Homo sapiens: one gene and its partner. The protein of the gene in region 2 interacts with the protein of the main gene of each other region in a pairwise test. Each region holds a gene or a part of one and is shown on either strand. Other genes may lie near its edges.

Region 1 (11,604 bases), on a different chromosome or scaffold from region 2:
TCGGAGCCTGGAGGGCAGCTCGGACACGGCCCTGCCCCTGAGGCGGGCAGGGAGCCTCTGCAGCCCCCTGGACGAACCAGTATCACCCCCTTCCCGGGCCCAGCGCTCCCGCTCCCTGCCCCAGCCCAAACTCGGTACCCAGCTGCCCAGCTGGCTTCTGGCCCCTGCTTCACGCCCCCAGCGCCGCCGCCCCTTCCTGAGTGGAGATGAGGATCCCAAGGCTTCCACGCTACGTGTTGTGGTCTTTGGCTCCGATCGGATTTCAGGGAAGGTGGCTCGGGCGTACAGCAACCTTCGGTAAGAGCCGTAATGCGGAGCATCCCTCTGCCCTGGGTAACAGGGTTGTTGTGCTGGTGGAATCTGGGGCCTGAGGCTTAGGGCCCCAGAGGAACCAAAAGTTCCCTTATTTATTTTTATTTTATTATTATTATTATTATTATTATTATTATTATTATTATTATTATTTTGAGACAGAGTCTTGCTCTGTTGCCCGGGCTGGAGTGCAGTGGCATGATCTCGGCTCACTGCAACCTCTGGCTCTCCAGTTCAAGCGATTCTTGTGCCTCAGCCTCCCGAGTAGCTGGGATTACAGGTGCACACCACCACACCTGACTAATTTTTTTTTTTTTTTTGTCTTAGTAGAGATGGGGTTTCCCTCTGTTGACCAGGCTGGTCTTGAACTCCTGGCCTCGGGTGATCCACCCACCTCAGCCTCCCAAAGTGCTGGGATTACAGGCGTGAGCCACCATGCCCATTCCCCTTCTCACCATCTTCTTCTTGCCAGGCGGCTGGAGAACAATCGCCCACTCCTCACACGGTTCTTCAAACTTCAGTTCTTCTACGTGCCTGTGAAGCGAAGTCATGGGACCAGCCCTGGTGCCTGTCCACCCCCTCGGAGCCAGACGCCCTCACCCCCGACAGACTCCCCTAGGCACGCCAGCCCTGGAGTATGTCCCCAGCCTGGGCCAATGGTCGGGGAAAGTAGAGTTCTGGCTACCTGAAGGAAGCCGATTGGAAGTCATGGAAAGCAAGCACCTGTGTTGACAGGGCACCTCCCCCTGCCTGGCCCTCACTCCCTGCACTTGGACATGACATTTTGCCATATGACAAAGACTGAAAGTTGTCATACTTCCCCAAGGGCAGGGAGAAGCTCAGCATGGGGCTGCAGGTGCCATCCAAGGCCCTGGAGCTAGGATGGGCAGGCCTCCTGGGGAGCTGGGATGATGACTCTTGTTCTTTGCCCTAGGAGCTGGGCACCACCCCATGGGAGGAGAGCACCAATGACATCTCCCACTACCTCGGCATGCTGGACCCCTGGTATGAGCGCAATGTACTGGGCCTCATGCACCTGCCCCCTGAAGTCCTGTGCCAGGTAAGTGGCCCCGTGGTTGCGGAACAGGGTCCACTGGCTGCAGTCACCCAGCCTCACTTAGAAGGCCCTGGATTTAGGGAATCAGGCTTGAGGCCCCCATGGAGGACCTGGGCCCTCTTGGAAAAGATCAGGGAGTGTGGGTGAGAAGCAGGACTGAGCCTGAACTCAGGACACTGAGTGTGAGAGCTGGGGTCACTGCAGTGATGGAGGAGGGCCCTCAGAAGGGTCCGGGGGACCTCAGATTTCAGCCCCCTTCCTCAACTCCCGCCTTTGTCTGGCTAAGCCAGAAGCCTCCCTGGAGGCCAGTGGGTCAGGTGAGGGGCATGGAGGCTGGGCACCGGCCCTCCCCTGCTTCCTGCTTCCACCTCACCAGCTCCCCCTGACTGGCTGCCTCTATGTCTCTCTTCTCTCTTCCTCCCTAATTCTTGCTCCTTCTTACCATCTATCCACCCACCCATCTGGCTTGGCTGCCCCTTCCCTCTGGCCACAGCAGTCCCTGAAGGCTGAAGCCCAGGCCCTGGAGGGCTCCCCAACCCAGCTGCCCATCCTGGCTGACATGCTACTCTACTACTGCCGCTTTGCCGCCAGACCGGTGCTGCTGCAAGTCTATCAGACCGAGGTAAGGCCTCCCTGCCCCGAACCGCCTCTTCCCCACCTGCCGGGCCTGCAAGGCCCCACCCCTGCCCCGGGAGAGCCAGCAGGTCTATGCTGGAGGAGCCAAATGGGCCCCTCCAGGAGGTTCACACTGATGTACATGCTCCTGCCCTCTCCAGCTGACCTTCATCACTGGGGAGAAGACGACAGAGATCTTCATCCACTCCTTGGAGCTGGGTCACTCCGCTGCCACACGTGCCATCAAGGCGTCAGGTGGGTACTGCCTGAGCAGAGACAGACGGTGAGGCGGGGCCTGGGACGCGAAACGTGGAGCTCTGTGGAGGTGGGGTTACCTGGGAGGTGGGGCCATGGGAAGGTGGGGTTGCACAGGAGGTAGGCCCCTGGGGAGACGGGGTTACCGGGAGGTGGGGCCATGGGGTGGCTGGGTGACCCGGTAGGCGGGGCCCTGGGGAGGCAGGGATACGGGAGGTGGGGCCACGGGAAGGTAGGGTTACCCAGGAGGCAGGGCCATGAGAGGGCGGGGTTACCTAGGAGGCAGGGCCATGGGGAGGCGGGGTTGTCCGGTAGGTGGGGCCTTGGGGAGGCAGGGTTACCGGGAGGCAGGGCCATGGGGAGGCGGAGTTACCCAGGAGGCGGGGCCCTGGGGAGGCGGGGTTACCCAGGAGGTGGGGCCATGGGAGGGCGGGGTTACCCAGGAGGCGGGGCCATGGGAGGGCGGGGTTACCCAGGAGGTGGGGCCATGGGAGGGCGGGGTTACCCAGGAGGTGGGGCCATGGGAGGGCGGGGTTACCTAGGAGGCAGGGCCATGGGGAGGCGGGGCCCTGGGGAGGCGGGGTTACCCAGGAGGTGGGGCCATGGGGGGGCGGGGTTACCTAGGAGGCAGGGCCATGGGGAGGCGGGGTTGTCCGGTAGGTGGGGCCTTGGGGAGGCAGGGTTACCGGGAGGCAGGGCCATGGGAAGATGGAGTTACCCAGGAGGCGGGGCCCTGGGGAGGCGGGGTTACCCAGGAGGTGGGGCCATGGGAGGGCGGGGTTACCCAGGAGGCGAGGCCATGGGGAGGCGGGGTTGCCTGGTAGGTGGGGCCCTGGGGAGGCAGGGGTACCGGGAGGCAGGGCCATGGGAAGGTGGAGTTACCCACGAGGCAGGGCCCTGGGGAGGCGGTGTTACCCAGGAGGCAAGGCCATGGGGAGGCGGGGTTGCCTGGAAGGCAGGGCCCTGGGGAGGCACGGTTACCGGGAGGCAGGACCATGGGAAGGGGGGTTACATGGGAGGTCGGGCCAGGTGGAGGCAGGCTTACCCAGCAGGTGGGCCCTGGGGAGGCAGGGTTACCCAGGAGGTGGGGCCCTGGAGAGGCAGGACCCTGGGAAGGTGTGATCACAGCGGAGATGGGGCCCTGGAGAGGCAGGACCCTGGGAAGGTGTGATCACAGCGGAGATGGGGCCCTGGAGAGGCAGGACCCTGGGAATGTGTGATCACAGCGGAGATGGGCCCTGGAGTGATGGGGTCACTGAGGAGGTGGAGATCCCCAGAACGTGGAGCCAGAGAGAGAGGCAGGGCCTTGGTGAGACAGATCCCTAGGGAGTCACGGTCCATGTGGTAGGGGATGGGGAGGTAAGGCCCAGGGAGGCAAGGCCACTGCGTTCGTGAGGAGCCGGGGAAGCCAGGGGTAGTGAAGGGTCTGTCTGTGTGTGGCACAGGTCCTGGCAGCAAGCGGCTGGGCATCGATGGCGACCGGGAGGCTGTTCCTCTAACACTACAGATTATTTACAGCAAGGTAAGACCCGTGCTGGGGCTCCTTCCCCTCCAGGATCTGCTGCTGATACTTCCTCCGCCAGAGCTTGGACCCAGAGCTGGACTCGTGTGTTCCTGGGCCCCAGTCTTTACGCTGGAAGGCTGCAGCAGGCTCCCCTGGATGCTGAGAGAAGCAGAGAAGGGAAGGAGTGGATATCTCTGTGCTTCTTGGCCTCCAAAGCCTCTCTCCCACCATGTTCTCTGCCCCCACCCGAATGCGCTCAGCAGCAGCCCAGGGGTAGGGGTCTGCTGGGCCTGGCTACAGGGCTGGGGCTGAAAGGGGGAAAGGGAAGCCTTCCAGAGGCACCTCAGGGAGAAGCCAGGGTCTCGGGGGGCCAGTGTGCCTGGCAGGCTGCATGCAAGATGGGATTGGCGTGAGAAAGGAGTGAGGAGAGCTGTGGGGAGGTGGAGGGCTGTCCATGACATGCCAGAAGACATGAGTTCTCTGAGCAGGTCGCATCCCAAGGTCCAGGCTGAGGGAAGCTTGGCCTCACAGGTGGGCTTCTTCCTTCGGCCATTCCAAAGATATCCTCTTAGCACCTGCCCATGCTGCCTCTGTGCTGGGCAGGGGAAAAGAGGGGTTGAGCAGGGAAGCCTAGGCCTCACTTTAGCTTGTCTAGAGGAGGGAGACAGACAAGAAACGAGGAAACAAAGAAATAGCCAAGATAATTCCAGAGAGCGGCAAGTGATGACAAAGCAATAAAACAGCAGATGGACGGTGGTGTTGGGGCTGCAGTGCGTTTGGCAGTGAAGGAGGTGGGCAGGAGGCACCGACACTCACTGTAGCCACATGCCAGGTGCTTGCTAGACGTCTTCCACAGCCCAGGCACTGTTCTAGGCCCTGGAGCCTTCCTAAGAGTGAACAAAGGACAGACGTGGTCCCAGGAGACCTGCTGGCCCCCTGGAGTGGGTGGTAGGCATTGGTTCGATGATGCACACGATGTAAAATTACAACTGTGACACATGGATGAGGAGAGGGACACGGGATGTTCCTAAGTGGCAAACCGAACCCAGTCAGGAGAGTTAGTAGTGAAGGCTTCCTTGAGAAGGCACCTGAGTTAATATTGGAGGGAAAACCAGGAATTAATTAGGCTGAGAAGAGAGGTGAGTGCTCTCACAGCAGCAGAAACTGCATGTGCAAAGGCCCTGTGGTGGGAGGCAGTGTGAACACCTTGAAGCACTCTGAAAGAAGACCCCCAGGCTGGAGCAGAGACAGCTGGTGGGAACATGATGCTGAGGTGAGGCTAAAGAAATGGGGGACCAGCATACCAAGAGCCTTAATTGCAATGAAAGGAGTTTTGTGGTTTTTTGTTTGTTTTTTTGAGACATAGTCTCGCCCTGTTTCTCAGGCTAGAGTGCAATGGCTCAATCTTGGCTCACTGCAACATCCGCCTCCCTGGTTCAAGCAATTCTCCTGCCTCAGCCTCCTGAGTAGCTGGGTAGCAGGTGCCCGCCACCACACCCGGCTAATTTTTTGTATCTTTAGTAGAGACGGGGTTTCACCACGTTGGCCAGGCTGGTCTCGAACTCCTGACCTCATGATCCACCTGCCTTGGCTTCCCAAAGTGCTGGGGTTACAGGCATGAGCCACCACGCCCGACCCAATGAAAGGAATTTTATCCTAGTCCTAAGAGCAGTGGATATCCATTAAGGGGGCTTATGTTTGTGGTGGGGCTGGGAATGCCTGTGACATGATTATATCTGAGGCTTGGAAGCTCCCTCTGGCAGCTCTGTGGAGGACAGATAGGAAGGGTCCACAAGTGATGCAGGAAGGCCAGTTAGGAGGCTGTTGCCATGGTCCAGAAGAGAAATTAGGGCAGCAGCCTGCACTAGGGTAGTGGTGGCAGAGCTGGAAAGGAATGGGAGACAGATGTGAGTGATGTAATCAGCAGGGCCCATGGATGGGTTAGGAAAGGAGAGGCCAGACTCCTGGAGTCACTCCTCTGTGACTGGCAGCACCATCTTCTCTGGGGGGACCACAGGAAGAGGCCGGGGTCCAGTTGGGGAAGAGCTTGAGTTTGGGTCGGGACATATTATTGAGGTTGAGAGGCCTTGAGAGGTATAAGGAGACAGTGAGAATAGACGGCTGGCTGAACGGGCCTGACTTTGTGGTGAATATGAAGATGGGTGGACAGCTGCTAATGGAAAAAGGTCACGGAGGAGACTCCTGAAGGGGGGAAGCAGGGAATACAAAGAGCAGAGGACCAAGGGGAGAACCTTGAGCCCTTCATGATGTAATGGCGGGCAGAGGGCAGCGATCCAGCAAAGCAGAGAGGCACCAGCCAGAGAGGCGCTAGAAAAACCAGGAAGGTGCCATCACGAAAGCCCAGGAGAGGTTTTCAAGGAGGGGAGAGCAGTGAACTGTAAGGTCAAGTAAGCTGAGGACCAAGAAGTGTTCTTCGGTTTAACAACATGGAGGTCCCTGATGACAGAGACATTCACACAAAGACTTGAAGAGGGGGTTCAGGTCTGGCTCTGCCAGAAACAGCATGTCTGTGGGCCCAACCCTTCTTCACTCTGGGCCCGGCAGGAGAGCTTCAGGACCACCCCTGCAGGTGCTCTCAGCTCTTGTACCTTTCAACCTGGTCACAGAGGCTGCTGACCCCTAGACCAAGCCAGTGACGTGAGCTCTTCCCTGGAGTCATCCAGGTCTATCCAGGGTGGTACAGGGGCCCTGGTGAATAAGAGAGGGCTTTCTGGGGATATGCTAACTAGAGGCAACCCCCTGTCACTGATGGGCCTTCAAAGAGAAGGCAGCAGGCACCGGGGCCTCTGGACTCAGAGGGTCTGGCTACACTGCATTTCCAGGGGGCCATCAGTGGACGAAGTCGCTGGAGCAACCTGGAGAAGGTCTGTACCTCCGTGAACCTCAACAAGGCCTGCCGGAAGCAGGAGGAGCTGGGTGAGTGGGGTGGTCAGTGTGGGGTGTGCAGTAGGGAGGTGCTCTGAGCCTGGCCTGAGTGTCCTTGCCCCTCAGATTCCAGCATGGAGGCCCTGACGCTAAACCTGACAGAAGTGGTGAAAAGGCAGAACTCCAAATCCAAGAAGGGCTTTAACCAGGTACGGGCTTCCCTCTCCTTCCAGCCATACCCTCAAGAGACTTACTGGAGCGTGCATGTGCGTATGTGTGTACGTGTGTGTGCACATGTATGTGTGTGCATGTGTGCACATACACACCCGTGTGTACATACTTGTGTGTGTGTGAGAGAGAGAGGAGAGGTGGGGGAGGAGAGGCAGGGTGAGGGGTATGATTTGGGGATGCACACAGGTGTGGAGTGTTGCGGGGTGTCGGGGAGGTAGGGGTGCCCTGTGAGAGGACGCGTGTATGTGGAAAAGTTGTGGGGTGGGTGCCAGGAGAGTCCTAAGACTCTGAGACCAAAGAAAGCAGGCTCTGGATCAGGGGACCTGGGGCTGCTCCGGTGAGGGCAGCAGGCAGGGCAATGTCTCCTCAGGGGGCACTTGCTTCTTCCAGATGCTGGAGAGGAGGCAGGGGCTGATGGAGGCCTCAGGCTCCCTCCTGTGACCTGGCCATTAACCCTGGAGCGCAGTCAGACAAACCCCTGCCCTCCCACACCCCTAGAAGTGGATGGGCAGTTCTGAGAAAAGGAACTGCCAGGGGCTGGCAGTGTTGGATGGCCAGGGATTTGGGGCTGACCTGGGCCTTCCTTCCAGATTAGCACATCGCAGATCAAAGTGGACAAGGTGCAGATCATCGGCTCCAACAGCTGCCCCTTTGCTGTGTGCCTGGACCAGGATGAGAGAAAGATCCTGCAGAGTGTAGTCAGGTAGGAAAGGGGGGTCCTAGGGAGGGGAGCAGTTTCTGCTCCCACCAACCCAGAGGCCTGGAAGGAGCTGGAAGGATGGGGGCCTGCTCTGATCCCTGGCCCCTGCCCTGCTGCACAGATGTGAGGTCTCACCGTGCTACAAGCCAGAGAAGAGCGACCTCTCCTCACCACCCCAGACGCCTCCTGACCTGCCGGCCCAGGCCGCACCTGATCTCTGCTCCCTTCTCTGCCTGCCCATCATGACTTTCAGTGGAGCTCTGCCCTAGTGTGGGCCCAGCGCCAGACTGGACAGAAGCCCTGGGGCAACCTCCTCGGCCACCCCTCCAGGACAGTCCCTCTCTGTGGAGAACTGAATGGCCCTGTGCAGAGCCATAGTCCCACTGTGGGTCCTGCAATGAGCAGGGGCTGGGAGTAGAGGGTTTCTGGGGCCTCAGGGTTCTGGGAAAGCAACAGCTATCAGAGAGAGAAGGGCCAGACCCCATAGCCTCTTAGATTCCTGGCAGTAGAAGGAGAAGGATGGGTAAATTGACCTCTGAAGTCCCTGACCATTAGCATGGTCTAGGATCCTTTCTAGAAGGAAGATCTGAGGCTCTGGTGCTCAGGGGGATGGCTTGGGCCTTTTCTCTCAACCTTGGCTGAGCCTACCCCTTACTTTGCCAAAGACTTGAGGACCCTGTATGTCTGGAGTTCAGTCCCCTCCTCTGTGGGGCTCAGGTGATTGAAATGTGGATGAAACATTTCTCTACTTCAAGACCACCTCTCCCTGCAAACACCACACACACATGGCATGCATGTACGCACATGCGCACACACACACGCACACACCTCAATAATTTCTCTCAAGTTTCCTGAGTCTCCAGAAAAACAGCACTAACGCTGGACCTGTCTACTCTCAGAACCCGGCACAGATTCTCTCTTGATCTCCTTTTGGAATCTGAGATTCTTAGAAGACAGGATAGGGTTAAATTTAGTAGCAGCTCAGTTCTAGCTAAATCACTAGAGGAAGTTAATTAACTTTAAGCCTTCATTTCTCCAGCACTAAAATGGAGTGGAGAGTTGGGGTGGAAATAAGACATCCTTAAAAGGTTAAATTGTCTGCAAAGCACCTAGCCCAGTGCCGAGCTCCCAGTAGGTGTTCAGTAAAGCTTAGTGCCTGACTTTCTGAACACTGATTCCTCCTGTTTGGAGTCACTGGGATACTCTCATTGCCGTTGGGATGTTCCTCACTCCTTCCCAGTTCGTGGCTGAGGCAGAACCCAGACTGAAGAGGGAAGAGACATTCCAGAGGAGGATTGCCTTCGTCAGGGTAAGGGGTGGGCTGCTCAGGGGCCCTACCCTTCACCCCCTTCTGTATCAGATTGGCCCTCCCACTCCCATCTCACTCTGCGTGTACAATCTTCCATATCCGCAAGTTCACTGGCACTCTTCTGGCACCTGGGCAAGATCCCAGAACAGAGGATGGAGTGACTGGCCTCACAGAGCTTAGTGCCCGACTCAGGGGAAATGGGACTGGTGCATGGGAAATGGTCAGCCTAGGATAGGACACGAGAGTCTGAAATTCAAAGCAACCAGCTTGAAGTGGTTTGAGAAGCTGGAAGCAAACATGGGCTAGAGAGATAGGGCAGAAGTCAAGACGAGGATCTGGACTGATGTGGAGAAAGTAGCCACGGAAGCATGAACTGTATCCTGCACAAAGTCCCTCTTCCCCGCCTCCTAATTCATTATGCCCAAAAGGCCTTACGTGAAATTCCAGCCCAGAGTACTCATGACTTGAGAGACGTGGACAGAGCCAGCTTCTACCTTGCCTGGCCGTCTCTCCCCTGTCTTAATGTCTGCTCTTGCTCTAAGCTCCAGAAGAGTGGCGGGCCATGTATCTTCAATATGTTTTTGCTGTATGGGCAGGTTGTCTTATTATGTGATCAACAGATGTCCAGGAACTAATGAGTGGAATTTAATATTATTGTCAAATAAAACTTGATTTGTCCTATATTTAATGACCAGTAGTTACTTTGCTGCATGACCCTGCTAGTTGGACAGTTTATATAAATCATTTTATTTATACCAGAAAGAAGCTTCATAGGGGATTGTTTTATTTCTCTTTTTGTAATTTTCCACCCTATAGAAAATATATTTGGGTGAAAATTTTCCCCAATACTGTTCTGCTTAAGCCTCATCATACTCACTGACCCACAGAACAAAAATTCCTACACCTAAGGACTCAGCATTTGGGGTTTCCTGTGCTACTTCACTTGAGAAATATATACCCATATATCCATCTGTTTCCTGTACCCCAAGCTCCAGGGAGGGGACGGGCCTGAGGCCGTTGCTGCGGATGGGTGGCACAGTGGATCCTGGACCTACCATGCAGCTGAGAGGAGGGGAAGAGAGCTCAATAATGGCCCTTTGGATCTGGGACTGCCTTTAGACTTGGGTGATAAGGAAAGAGAGAAGAAGAAGTGGAGGGATGGTAGAGGACACCTGTGGCTTGGGAGAGGGAGGTAAGTACCAGGTTGCCAGAACACTATTCAGGATGGAGGGAGAAAGAACTGTGAGCTGTTCCAGCTCTGCATCAGCTGGCTATTGCAAACAATGAAGCATACCTTCAATTCAGGGAACTAAGTCTCCGATCATTTGTTCTTGCTCATGCATCTGGAGGACATCTAGGGACCACCTGATCTAGGCTGGGCTCAGAGTGGCTTGGCTCCAAGCTGCAGGATGGGTGCAGATCTGCTTCGTTGGTCTTTCAGACACATTGGACCAGCATGAGAGGCAAGCAGAGACACGCGATGCCTCCTAGGAATGGAACCTGGAACAAGAACAATATTCCTTCTGCCAATAATTGGCTAACACTGATGAAGCACATCAACCCACAGACTTAATAAACCCAGCAAATTTTGCACAGGAATTTTGACACAGGAATCTCCACACAAGAAAAAAACAAAATCACATGAGAAGTGCACTTTACCTTTGATGTTCTTTCCATAACTCCAGTCTAATCAAGAGTAAAAAAGATCATATAAACCCAGACTATGGGACCAGATAACCTGACCAGTACTCTCTTACTGTCACAAAAAATAAGGAAAGACTGAGAAACAAAAAGAGATGGAGTAAACCTGAAAAATAAGCAGTAGACACTGGCTTGTATCCTGAAACATTAATCCAAAAACTGGTAAAATCCCAATACAATCTGGAGTTCAGTTTTTTCTTAAACACACACACACACATACACACACACACACACACCCCTTACTGTCAAACTTCTAAAGAAAAAAAGGTAATAAGAAAATACTAAAGACAGAGGAAAATAATACACTTTATCTTCAAAGTAGCAACAATTAAACTGAGAACTCTCTCTTTCAATAGAAACAATGGAAGCCAGAGATGATGAAATGATATCTTTAAAGTATGAGGGGAAAAAACAAACCTACTAACCTGGAATCACACACCCAGAATTGTCTGATAATACTTTTTTAAAAAAAACTTATAAACTGCAGCGGTCGGGCGCAGTGGCTCACACCTGTAATCCCAGCACTTTGGGAGGCCGAGGCAGGCAGATTACGAGTTCAGGAGATCGAGACCATCCTGGGTAACACGGTGAAACCCCGTTTCTACTAAAAATACAAAAAATTAGCCGGGTGCGGTGGCGGGCACCTGTAGTCCCAGCTACTCAGGAGGCTGAGGCAGGAGAATGGCCTGAACCCGGGAGGCGGAGCTTGCAGTGAGCCGAGATCGCACCACTGCACTCCAGCCTGGGTGACAGAGCGAGACTCCATCTCAAAAACAAAACAAAACAAAACAAAAAACTTATAAACTGCTCACAAGGGACACACTTTAAATATAACATCACAGAAAGGTTGAAAGCAAAAGGATGGAAAGAATCACACCATGCAAAACCAACCAGATCAAAAAAGCTGGTGTTAACACACTAATATCCAAAGATGCAAAACCGGACCAAAAAAGCTGGTGTCAATACACTAATATCCAAAGATTTAACAGCAGAAGCATTACAAAAAATAAAGAGGAACATTTCATAAAGATTAA
Region 2 (11,604 bases):
TAGCTTCCTACCCAGCTTATAATTTGGTGAAGGCAGGGACTGTATCATATAACTCTTATCTGTCTTCATGGCACCTACCCATGCTGGACTTGCTGTCTCTGAGTAAAGGAATGATTTAACAGACCTGTCTACAGATAGTATTTGTCCCACTTAATGATTCTTTGAACTTACACAGCGCTCTCAGCAGCCTGAGATCAGCAGGCTGAAACGAGTTAATCACATGACCATAGGCCTGCTCTAGCAGTGTTACTTAGAGGACCTCTACATCCCCAACTCGGAGCAGCTGGCAAAAGTGACAAGTATGAGTGTACTTCATTATCCAATCTTCACATGGCTGGGAATCAATATTGCTCATGTGGTCACACAAACCTGTAACTTCTCTTTTTGTGGGAAAATGAGAAAGAGAAGTTGGTTTTTGAGTTGCCTAGAGTCTGTGAAAAGCACGTATCTAAAAAAGCACAAGCTTTCTGGGAACAAAGACAGTGACTTTCTTTGCAGTGAACATCAATACTATTTTCTTTCTAAGCAACCCCTAAATCCAGGCTTTCATTAGCTGGGAAACAGCTTCCAATCTCATAGCTGGGCAGCTGCCCTTCAAAGACACTGCTTTCTCCCCTGCTTGCTCGCTACAAGTCTTATGTTACAAATCCTATGAGAGGGAGAGGGGGAGCCTCTGACCACCAGGCAAACGGAAATACATTTTAAACATCTGCAAGGCATGGTTTGCACCCCTTTGGGGTGACCCTCACTGCACTGAAACAAAGGCAATTTGCAGACAAGGCCCCAGATTTACCGAAAGCAAGTGAATACAATGCAACCAATTACCCTGTTTGGACTGGATGGCAATGAAGGAAACCAGGCCCCTCAGAATGGCTGGCTTACAGCAATCTATTGTCCTCTTGGACTTCTGGATGCTTGAGTTTCAATTTCTCTTAAAGCAATTAAGGAGCACCTCACCTGCATAAGAACTGCAGGCCCCAGATATTTGTCTCCGTTCCACCAGTAGCTGGGGCAGCTGGTGCTACAGCAGGCACAGAGAATGCACTCGTAGAGCCCGTCCTGTATGGGGAGAAAAGAGAGGCAGGAGCTTGTGACGGGAGAGACTCTGCTATGTCTTCAGCTGATTAAATGTTACCTTTGGGGTCAGTGCATGAACAAAGTGCCTACTTGCATGTGAATTTTCTTAGCAAAATCCAAGGGGTGATTTGCAGATATTTAGCAGATTAATAAAGATCTTGCAAGTGAAATGTAAACATCTGCCCAGGGTTCTTAAATCCACGTATAGTGCACTTTCCCTTTAATAAACAAGAACCTCTCACTTGTCTAAAAAAGAAATAGAAAACAAGAACACAAAAACAACTCCCATAAATTCCAGCTTCCTGGAATGAGGTCAAGACGGGAGAGATTCAAAAGCCTAGGGGCTGAAGCAGCAAGAGTCTGTAGCTGCTTCTGCCCTGGGCTCAGCAGAAGGGCCCTCAGGTTTTCACTGGGAACATCAACATCATCCCCAGTGACTGCCACTGCCAATCCTGACGGAGGCCCTGCGCCTTACACGCTTTCCTTAACTGATCATCACAGTAATCCTGTGAGGTGACTCCAGCAAGTTCCACTTACAGGTAAGGAACCAAGGCGAGGAGAGTGAGTTAGGCCATGTGCCCAGGGACGTGCCACTATAGGCAGCAGAACCAGGATGTGGCCCCGGCAGCTGGCTCTGGCTTCCTGCACTTTCACACCTGCCACACTGGGTCAATCTGCCCAACAAGTCCCAAACACAAACCGGACTTTCTGAGTTTGGAAACAACAGAAATGGATTAAAAACAGCAAAATGAAAGGGGCCCACTGACACCTGAAGTGACAGTTGAGAACAGATGAGACAGAACTGATGGTTGTGATTGAACCATGAGTCTTCAACCAAATCTATGTTATGTCCAGACAGCTGGTGGGAGTGTCAACTGGCCCCACTGGTCTAGAAGGCATAAGGTCACAGGATTAAGAGCCTTAAGAATAGTCATATTCTTTAACCCACTCCTAGAAAAATCTGTAATAAGAAATTAGAATGTTTTGGGCAGAACTTGAAGGATAAAGATGTTCATCTAGCCTTATTTCTAACAGTAAAAAATTGGAAACAATTTCATTGTCCAGCAACAGTGAAATGGTTTTATGGCGCATGGTGCATACATCTGAAGCAGTAGAAAGCAAAGTGTAAGTTAATGCTTATGAACAATTTTAAGAATATGAAGAAAATGCTCACAATAACATAAGTGAAAAAAGCAGGATATAAAAGCATATTTACATTTTGATCCCAGCTACATAAAAATATAATGTAATAAACAAAAAACAAAGGAAACTATAAATATTAACAGAGATTATGTTTTGGTGGTGGAATTATAAATTCTTTTTTTTTTTTTTTTTGAGACAGGGTCTTGCTGTGTGCCCCTGGCTGGAGTGCAGTGGCACAATCACAGTTCACTGCAGCCTGGAACTCTTGTGCTCAAGCAATCCTCCCATCTCAGCCTCCTGAGTAGCTGGGACTATAGGTGCATACCACCATGCCTGGCTAAGTTTTAAAGTTTTTGTAGAGACAGGGTCGCCCTATGTTCCCCAGGCTGAAAATTATAGCTTATTTAAAAAATGATGGAGCCTCTCTGAACCTATTTTGGTTTGGGGGCTGCCCAATTAAAAATAAATACATACATAAATTTCTCCACATTTTCCAATTATTTATTAAGTTCAGCATACTAATTTAAGGAAGCCAAAAAATGTTAAATGTTTGGTATGTAAATGAGTAAATGAGTAAATTTCTATTACAGGTTGGGCATCCCAAATCTGAAAATCTGAAATCCAAAATGTTCCAAAATCTGAAACTTTTTGAGCACCAATATGCTGCTCAAAGGAAATGTTCACTGGAGCATGGATTTCAGATTTCGGATTTGGGGTGCTCAACTAGTAAGTGTAAGGCAAATATTCCAAAATCTGAAAACATATGAAACCCCAAACACTGAAACCCAAGCATTTAGGATAAGGAATACTCAACTTGTATCTAGAAAACCAAACATGCTCAGGGGAACTCTTCAATCCCTAATAATACCACATCAGGGAGATGTTCACTAGCTACGCACCAGCCTTGCCTAGGAATGCAAAGGACTCGCTGGGCCAGAGGGCCCGGTTCAGCCTGGACTCTGGGATGCACAAGACTCTGGGAGGTAGAAACTGAGGAGCAGAGCTGCAGTCTGAGAAGAGCAGCTCTGAAGTCTCATCCCAGGCTTACTCTGACTTGCAGGCCACTGTGCTGACCCTCACTATCTTGATGGTGACAGACTGGGCACACTTACTAGGACTCCCCTTTTTCTCTTTTCTTTTTTTCTTTGAGACGGAGTCTTGCTCTGTTGCCCAGGCTGAAGTACAGTGGCACAACCTTGGCTCACTGAAACCTCCACCTCCCGGGTTCAAGAGATTCTCCTGCCTTGGCCTCCTGAGTAGCTGGGATTATAGGTGTGAGCCACCACACTCAGCTAATTTTTGTATTTTCAGTAAAGATGGGGTTTTATCACGTTGGCCAGGCTGGTCTCGAACAACTGACCTCAAGTGATCCGCCCACCTCGGCCTCCCTAAGTGCTGGGATTACAGATGAGCCACTGCACCTGGCCGGACTCCCCTTTCTTAACGTTTTATGGGCAACAGGAGAGGATGCTAAATATTTACCAAGTCTCAAAAGGTAGAATTAATTTATTCATTCATACAACTGATACTTTTCATATATTCACATATATGTATATGTTTTAGAGACAAAACCTGGGCTATGTTGCCCGGGCTGGCCTCAAACTCTCAGACTCTCAAACTCCTGGGCTCAGGTGATCCTCCTACCTCAGCCTCCTGAGTAGCTGGGACTATCAGAATGCACCACTGCATCTGGCCTTTTAAAAAATTTATATATATTTTTACAGTATTTACATAACTAATATTTATGGATAAAATAACATGCGCCAGGGCCTAGGGATCCAGAAAGGAAGAAGACACAGCCATTGCCCTTGGCCCTGTGCAGACCTGCAGGTGGGGCTCTGTCTCCATTTGGTCCCCTTCCTACCTCACGTCCACAAGTATGCAGGGAGTATGCAAATCAGAGAAGACTTCTTCGCAGAGGAGTAGAAGTAGTGTAGAAGAAGAAAGACTGAAAACTTGATAATGATGCCTCCGCTTTAAGATTTTACAGCTTGTACACAGGAATGGCAACTCCCAGAGAGTGAGCAGGCCAGGAATAATCCCACCCCACAGATCACCAGAAGTATGGTGTCAGGAAAGAATATCGATGACTCTGTTTTGCCATTAACATTTCACTCCCATTTGTAAAGCAGGACGGTGGTAGTTACAACTGGCCAGCATATGTGTTTCATTTTGCCCCCAGTGAGGGAACAGTTCTGACTTAGTGGTCACTTTTTAAAGCCCAGGCAATTTACATACTGGTTTCTTTTGAAAAAGATGGAGTAGCCACACAGCAACCACCCGCCCCTGCAGGCGGGGCACAGGGCTCTAGCTCCTTGGTCCACTCTGGGCCATTCACGGGTTCACACTACTCACCCGGCCCTAAGAGGATGAGTGCCCCACCCTTGTGCCAGTTCCTCTCCAGAATACACTAAATGGCTTGCATCAGCTTATGTTCCCTGCCAAGCCACACTCCTGGCAATCATCTTTGCAATAAATTCTTCAGATTGAAACAATAAATAGGGACTAATGACCAGTTTCTCACGCTCTTCTATGGACTGCAGATACTGCTGCTTGCCTTCCTGAGATTCATCCTTCTTCTTCAAATAAGGCTCAATGGATTTGTACTGTGCATAGAAGTTGCTCAAATCCTGTGGTTAAGAGGAAGAAGAAGAAGAAGAAGAAGAAAAGGATCAGATTCCATCATCACCTCAGCTTTATTTACCCCATTTCTTGGACACTGACTACTCGTCCACTCTATGCCAGGCAGAAGCCAGACTCTTTTCCTTTGTCATGAATATATGCAAAGATTACAAAAGGAAAAATGGTCACAATGTTAAGCATGGTTAGGAAACCTCTCCCTCACCTACTTGGGAAACCTGCCAATCCCACAGTCCTTTCTGCCCTTGAAAACACCACGTCAGCAAAGGTGTTCAAATATAGGGAGGTAGAAATTAAAGTGGGACTCATAAACAGCTGTTGCTTTCCCAACTGGCATTTTCCACATGATTTCTTTGTAGTTATGGCCAAATTATTCATTTCTGGGAATGTTCCAATTCTAAAATTCTGTGCCCCATTATTCTCAAACAAACCTCACCAAATGAGCTGCTGGAGGATTTTCTAGGCGTTTATCTTCTGCCATTCAAATTCTTTAATTAAACTCTGGCCACACTGTCTCAGATCTGGAGATTTTCCTAATCTCTCAGTGACACTGTGGTCCTCCTCCTGCCATAATATAGGAAACAGTCCCATCTATTTACTATCTGACTAGAAGAGGAGCCTTAAATACTCAAACAAATCCTGCCCTGAAAAACTAATAGCGTAACACACATAGCACTGCCCCCCATGCAAATAAAAACAAAACCAGAGAGATGCAGAAACTCACGGGAACAAGATCCTTTATCACATACATGTGTGGAAGAGGGTAGATTTTTGAGACCTTATTGAGGTTGGTGTCAATCCTTCGGGTGCAAGCTAGAGTGTTGCCTCCATTGATGTTCATTGCACAAGAGCCACAGATGCCTGAAAGAGACACACATTTAACACATCCTCACCCATATCCGGAATCAGTCCTGCCCCAAATACTTTCTTCTGGATCCTCCTTGCTGTGCCATCAGGGGCAGCACTGACATGCAACATTCCTCTGACAGAGGTGCCTGTTGGCTTTTCTCCCTTCCTTCCTTCTTCCTGCCTCGAATGTGGTTCTAATGGCTTGAGTTCCAAAAACTACTCTATGACCATGTGGCAACCTTGAGGTTAGAAGCCACATGCCAAGTATGGCACTGGAGGAGGCCAGAGGCCTGGGCGCTGCTGGCACCATGGAGTTTCCACAGCAGTTCTAGCTCCATGTGTCACGTGTTTTGAAGAAAAATCAGCCTGTTTTTTTTTTTTTTTTTTTTTTTTTTTTTAAAGAAAGGGTCTCACTCTGTCACCCAGGCTGGAGTGCAGTGGTGCAATCACAGCTCACTGCAGTCCTCAATGCCTGAGCTCAAGTGATCCTCCCACCTCAGCCTCCTAAGTAGCTGGGACTACAGAAGTAGCCCACCACACCCAGCTAATTTTCTGGTATTTTTTGTAGAGACGAGACTTGCAGAGACAGGGTTTTGTTATGTTGCCCAGGCTGGGCTTGAACTGCTGGGCTCAAGTAATCTGCCTGCCTTGGCCTCCCGAAGCACTGGGATTACAGGTCTGGGCCACCACACACCCGTCAAGCCTATTTTTTTTTTTTTTCTTTGAGAAGGAGTTTTGCTCTTGTTGCCCAGGCTGGAGTGCAATGCCGCGATCTTGGCTCACTGCAACCTCCGCCTCCCCAGTTCAAGTGATTCTCCTGCCTCAGCCTCCTGAGTAGGGGTGGGTGTGGTGGCTCACGCCTGGAAACCTAGATTTTTTAAAGCCACTGTTATTTGAACACAAATCTAACAGACACAATACCCAAAAGTAAAGTAAATCAACATTGTCTTGGTCATCTTAAGGTTGAAGTGACCTGGATACAGATTATTAAGAGATAGCTCTTCTTCTTTTTTTTTCTTGGCTGAGTCTTGCTGTGTCACCCAGGCTGAAGTACAGTGGTGGAGTCATAGCTCACTGTAGCTCACTTTAGCCTCAAACTTCTGGGCTCAAGCGATCCTCCCACCACAGCCTCCTGAGTAGTTGGGACTACAGGCACATGCCGCCATGTGCGGCGAATTCAAAAAAATTCTTTGTAGGTTGGGTGAAGTGGCTCACACCTGGAATCCCAGCACTTTGGGAGGCTGAGGTGGGCAGATCACTTGAGGTCAGGAGTTCGAGACCAGTTTGGCCAACATGGTAACCCCCTGTCTCTACTAAAAATATAAGTCGTGGTGGGTGCCTGTAATCCCAGCTACTCAGGAGGGTGAGGCGGGAGAATCATTTGAACTGAGGAGGAGAAGGTTGCAGTGAGCAGAGATCGCGCCACTGCACTCCAGCCTGGGTGACAGAGCAAGATTCCATCTCAAAAAAAAGAAAAAAATAATTGTTTTTTGTAGAGCAGGTGTCTCACTATATTGCCCAGGCTGGTCTCTAACTCACGGCCTCAAGTAATCCTTCTGCCTTTGCCTCCCACTGTGTTGGGATTACAGGCCTGAGCCACTACACTTGACAGAGGTAAGGCTTCTTCTATTGTCTTCATAAAATACGCAGCATAGTACCCTGGGGCTATGAAATCCACAAAAGCTGACTCAGCATGGACTTTCCAAAGAGGAGAAGAATGAACTAATATGAAACTGAGGCAAAGCAAAGCAAACTAAACAAAAAACGTGCTGACCCAGGACCCCGACATGAGAATTTTCTTAGCCTGGACCTACTTCCTGTATATGGAAATTTCCTGGGTGTTTTGGAATTTAAAAATGATTATGTACTCTAAACCTCTAGTGCCAGTCCTCTGAAGCTGTTTTTTGAAGATCATTAGGTCAGAGAAACCTGATTGCTTGAGAAAGTTGCACTGGTTATCATCTTTTTTTTTTTTTAGATGGAGTCTTGCTCTGTCGCCCAGGCTGGAGTGCAGTGGCACGATCTCGGCTTACTGCAACCTCTGCCTCCCGGGTTCAAGTGATTCTCCTGCCTCAGCCTCCTGAGTAGCTGGGATTATAGACGCCCGCCACCACACCTGGCTAATTTTTGTATTTTTAGTAGAGACGGGGTTTTACCACGTTGGTCAGGCTGGTCTCGAACTCTGACCTTGTGATCTGCCCGCCTCGGCCTCTGAATGCCTGGCCTCACCTTTTTTTTTTTTTTTTTTAATGGAAAGGGAGTCTATGTTTCCCAGGCTGGTCTTAAACTCCTAGCCTCAAGCTAGCCTACCACCTAGACCTCCCAAAGTACTGGGATCACAGGCGTGAGCCACTGCGCCCAGTCGGTTATCACTTTCATAAGACTAGAAAAGACAGTAAGACTCTCCTTCTCCTGTAAATCTTAGAAAGAGTGTAAGGGAACCCAAAGATGTGTCTTAAGCAAATACTCCTAGAGTTCCCCAAGAGACTGGATATTATCAATACATTTATGTATACCTGGCATCCAACTAGAGCAGTTTGCTTTTACAAGAAATGGCATAAAAATTAAAAAAATAAATCCAATGAACTTTCTCTCAAAAAGGCTCCCTGGGAATTCTCTTACAAGATGGGAATTAAAAAAAAAATAAGAAAAACAAGATGGGAATAAAAAGGAGTAGCAATTGATACAATTCTGCTTTATTTTTTTTAGTCCAGATGGGTCACACCTTATGTTCTTGGTTCTGAAAGAGTCCTACAGGGAAAGGTTACTGAAAAGCATCTACCTTTCCTGTGTTGCCAGGACTTAATGGGGAAGGCTGCTGTTTAACTGCCGCAGAATGTTCCCTGAACAGCAGGACTCAGCCGAACTATCATAATATCCATCAGCATTTGCAACGCTAAATAAGATTAGCTGAATCAAAACAGATGTCTTAAAAGACTTGAAATGCTTGAAATGTACAGCTGAACAGATAAAAAGCCATGGGCCGGTATCAATACTGGCTTTTCCTTTTTTTTTAAGGTTTTCTTAGAAAAAAGCTCAGTGTCCTCACAGAATCAAGCTACTCTCTGCTTTTGTTTTATCCCAGGTGTTCCAAGCCAAGTCAGTGCCTGAGAGAGCAGATCTGGAGTCTGGAGTCTGACAGCTTTGGCTGACTCCCGGCTCTCAAGTCACTCTCTATGTGTCCTTGTGGAAGTCCATTACCCTCTCTGGGCCTCACCTTTAAATTGAAGGTAGATAATAAGCACAGTCATCTACCTCATGTCCAGTGCACAGAACAGAGCCGGGCACACAGTCTGGCTCCACGGACATCAGGCCAGTCGGTCTTCACTGCACCCTGTGCAATTTTTGCTATACCTGAGAACCACCTGAATCAACTTTCTTTAAAGTATCTCTTGGGTTTTCTTTAACTTGTTTTGCTTAAATTCACATTAAAAAACCACTTATATCCCTATTATACCATCATTAGTAATTATATTTTTCTTTTTTTTTTTTTTGAGACTGTCTCGCTCTATTGCCCAGGCTGGAGTGCAGTGGCGTGATCTTGGCTCACTGCAAACTCCACCTCCCGGGTTCCTGCCTCAGCCTCCCGAGTAGCCAGGATTACAGGCGTCCGCTATCACGCCCGGCTAATTTTTGTATTTTTAGTAGAGACAAGGTTTCACCATGTTGGCCAGGTTGATCTCGAACTCCTGACGCCAGCTGATCCACCCGCCTCGGCCTCCCAAAGTGCTGGGATTACAGGTGTGAGCCACCGCACCCGGCAGTAATTATATTTTTCTAATACAGAAAATGAATACATTGCTATTCATGTAGAAAATGTTAGTCTGCACACTGCCTCAAATGGGCTCATGTGGCACCAGCAGCACAAGTAACCACATGCTGAGGGAGACACTGTACCAGCCAATCCAGAACACAGCTACCAAGGACATGTCATGCTGGGAGCTGAGGGAGACTCACACATCTCCCCTGCTGGACAAGCATAAGTGCCAGACAGAAACTCTCCACTGCTCCCTTAATAAAAGAGCTCAGCAGCATGGAAGGTGCCAGCCAGCAGGTCCTAGCTAGGCCTTGAAGCGTGGAGCAGCTCACAGGGACCGCCAGATGCAGTAACCACAGGATAGAATGCTCCTGAAGGAAAGTAAACTCAGAAACCAGAACTTGCACCATGGTTAGAATTTTGGATGCATTTACCCAAGAAAAGGAATTAGGTTGCACAGCAAGTTCACCCAGCAGAGAGCTGCAGCTGTTTTCCAGATGTCTCTATCAGCTTTGGCCAGCCCAAGCCTCTTTGGAAGACCACAAGTATCTGGAGCCCAACAGGAATGAAATGCTCACCTTCTCTGCATGATCTTCGGAAGGTCAAAGTAGAGTCAACTTCATTCTTAATCTTGATTAAAGCATCCAATACCATGGGGCCACATCTAACAAAGAAAAATATCCAGTGGTATTTATGTAACGTTCAACCTCCCTACACTTTATCATAATATAATCGGAGACACCTGGATGTATTAGCTTATCCATTTGGTCTTCTCAGGTCACCTTCGGAATTTGTTCTGTAGTTTTGTTTTTGCAGATTCTTACATTTTAAGTACTGCACAGTTCTATTTTGATGATCACAGTGCAAACACATTTCTAGGAAATGGAAAGCTAAAGTAGTAGTAGACAAGTATGACACAACTTCCATACAGTGGCCGAGTTTTTGTTTTTTACTTCTGAAGCTCCCTGCAAAGTTTTTCCAAATAATTTATTTCAAATTTTAGTTTGATTTTTAGGATGTAGACAATAGTTTTAAATAGTAATTAATAATACATAACCATAAGAGAAGACATAGTACAGAGAATAAAAGACACCCAATCACTCACAGTCCCCCAGTCAAATCACTGTGAGCCTCCTAGAACATACAAGGGCAGTGACATGGTACTAAGCGGAGCATCCCTGGGCGTGGGACCTGGAGTGCCGGCCTGGCAGCCAAGAGACTGGTCTGCACCATGGCTGAGCCACTTACCAGCTTGCAGGCAAATGATTTAATTTCTGCCTAGGCATTTAATCCACTGAGTGCAGAGAGCAGCACCTGCATCCCACAGGATTGCTGGAGGTGAGTTAATACACACGAGATCTTTACAGCAGCATCTGACATATAAATCATAGTTTAACTATAATAATCATCATGCAGAAACTGTGATTCTACGGAAATTACTCTCTGAACCTCAGTTTATCTGTAGAGTTAATATTTACACCACAGGGTTACTGTGAAAATTACATAAAAATATGTAATTTTTCATAGTACCTGGCATACAGTAAGTGCTCCACAAATCTATTTTCTGGTTGCCACCCTGCCCCCATTCCACTCACTAATTTTCTATGCATGAGATTAAAAATATACTTAAAAATACGTCATTTCCTTTAGTACTATCTGTATTTCATTTTTTTTCTTTTTTTTCTTGAGACGGGGTCTTGCTCTGTTACCCAGGCTGGAGTGCAGTGGCACGATCTCAGATCTGTAACCTCCGCATCCCAGCCTCAAGAGATCCTCCTGCCTCAGCCCCCCAGTAGCTGGGACTACAGGTATGTGCCACCACATCCAGCTTAATTTTTGTATTTTTTTGTAGAGGTGGGATTTCGCCATGTTGCCCAGGCTGGTCTCTAACTCCTGGACTCAAGTGATCCTCCTGCCTTGGATTCTCAAAGTGTTGGGATTATGGGTGTGAGGCAATGGTGCGATCTCGGCTCACTGCAACCTCTACCTTCCGGGTTCAAGCGATTCTCCTGCCTCAGCCTCCCGAGTAGCTGGGATTACAGGTGCATGCCACCACACCCGGCAAATTTTTGTATTTTTAGTAGAGATAGGTTTTCCCATGTTGGCCAGGCTGGTCTCAAACTCCTGACCTCAAGTGA

What was found.
Region 1: the proteins of SDHB (region 2) and PIK3R5 interact in a two-hybrid assay, tested with the Homo sapiens proteins (one study listed by BioGRID and IntAct).

What each region holds. Positions count from the first base shown.
Region 1 is NC_000017.11:8,876,864-8,888,467, reverse strand, and holds the end of PIK3R5 (phosphoinositide 3-kinase regulatory subunit 5), read left to right. Parts: coding exon 1-297; intron 298-767; exon of another isoform or gene 768-784; coding exon 785-947; intron 948-1,246; coding exon 1,247-1,372; intron 1,373-1,862; coding exon 1,863-1,991; intron 1,992-2,145; coding exon 2,146-2,239; exon of another isoform or gene 2,240-2,250; intron 2,251-3,284; exon of another isoform or gene 3,285-3,684; coding exon 3,685-3,761; exon of another isoform or gene 3,762-3,902; intron 3,903-6,586; coding exon 6,587-6,680; intron 6,681-6,755; coding exon 6,756-6,838; intron 6,839-7,450; coding exon 7,451-7,563; intron 7,564-7,681; coding exon 7,682-7,829; 3' UTR 7,830-9,552; downstream 9,553-11,604. UniProt on the Homo sapiens protein: Regulatory subunit of the PI3K gamma complex. Required for recruitment of the catalytic subunit to the plasma membrane via interaction with beta-gamma G protein dimers. Required for G protein-mediated activation of PIK3CG.
Region 2 is NC_000001.11:17,023,016-17,034,619, forward strand, and holds part of SDHB (succinate dehydrogenase [ubiquinone] iron-sulfur subunit, mitochondrial isoform 1 precursor), read right to left. Parts: intron 10,131-11,604; coding exon 10,045-10,130; intron 5,722-10,044; coding exon 5,585-5,721; intron 4,851-5,584; coding exon 4,734-4,850; intron 1,060-4,733; coding exon 958-1,059; intron 1-957. UniProt on the Homo sapiens protein: Iron-sulfur protein (IP) subunit of the succinate dehydrogenase complex (mitochondrial respiratory chain complex II), responsible for transferring electrons from succinate to ubiquinone (coenzyme Q).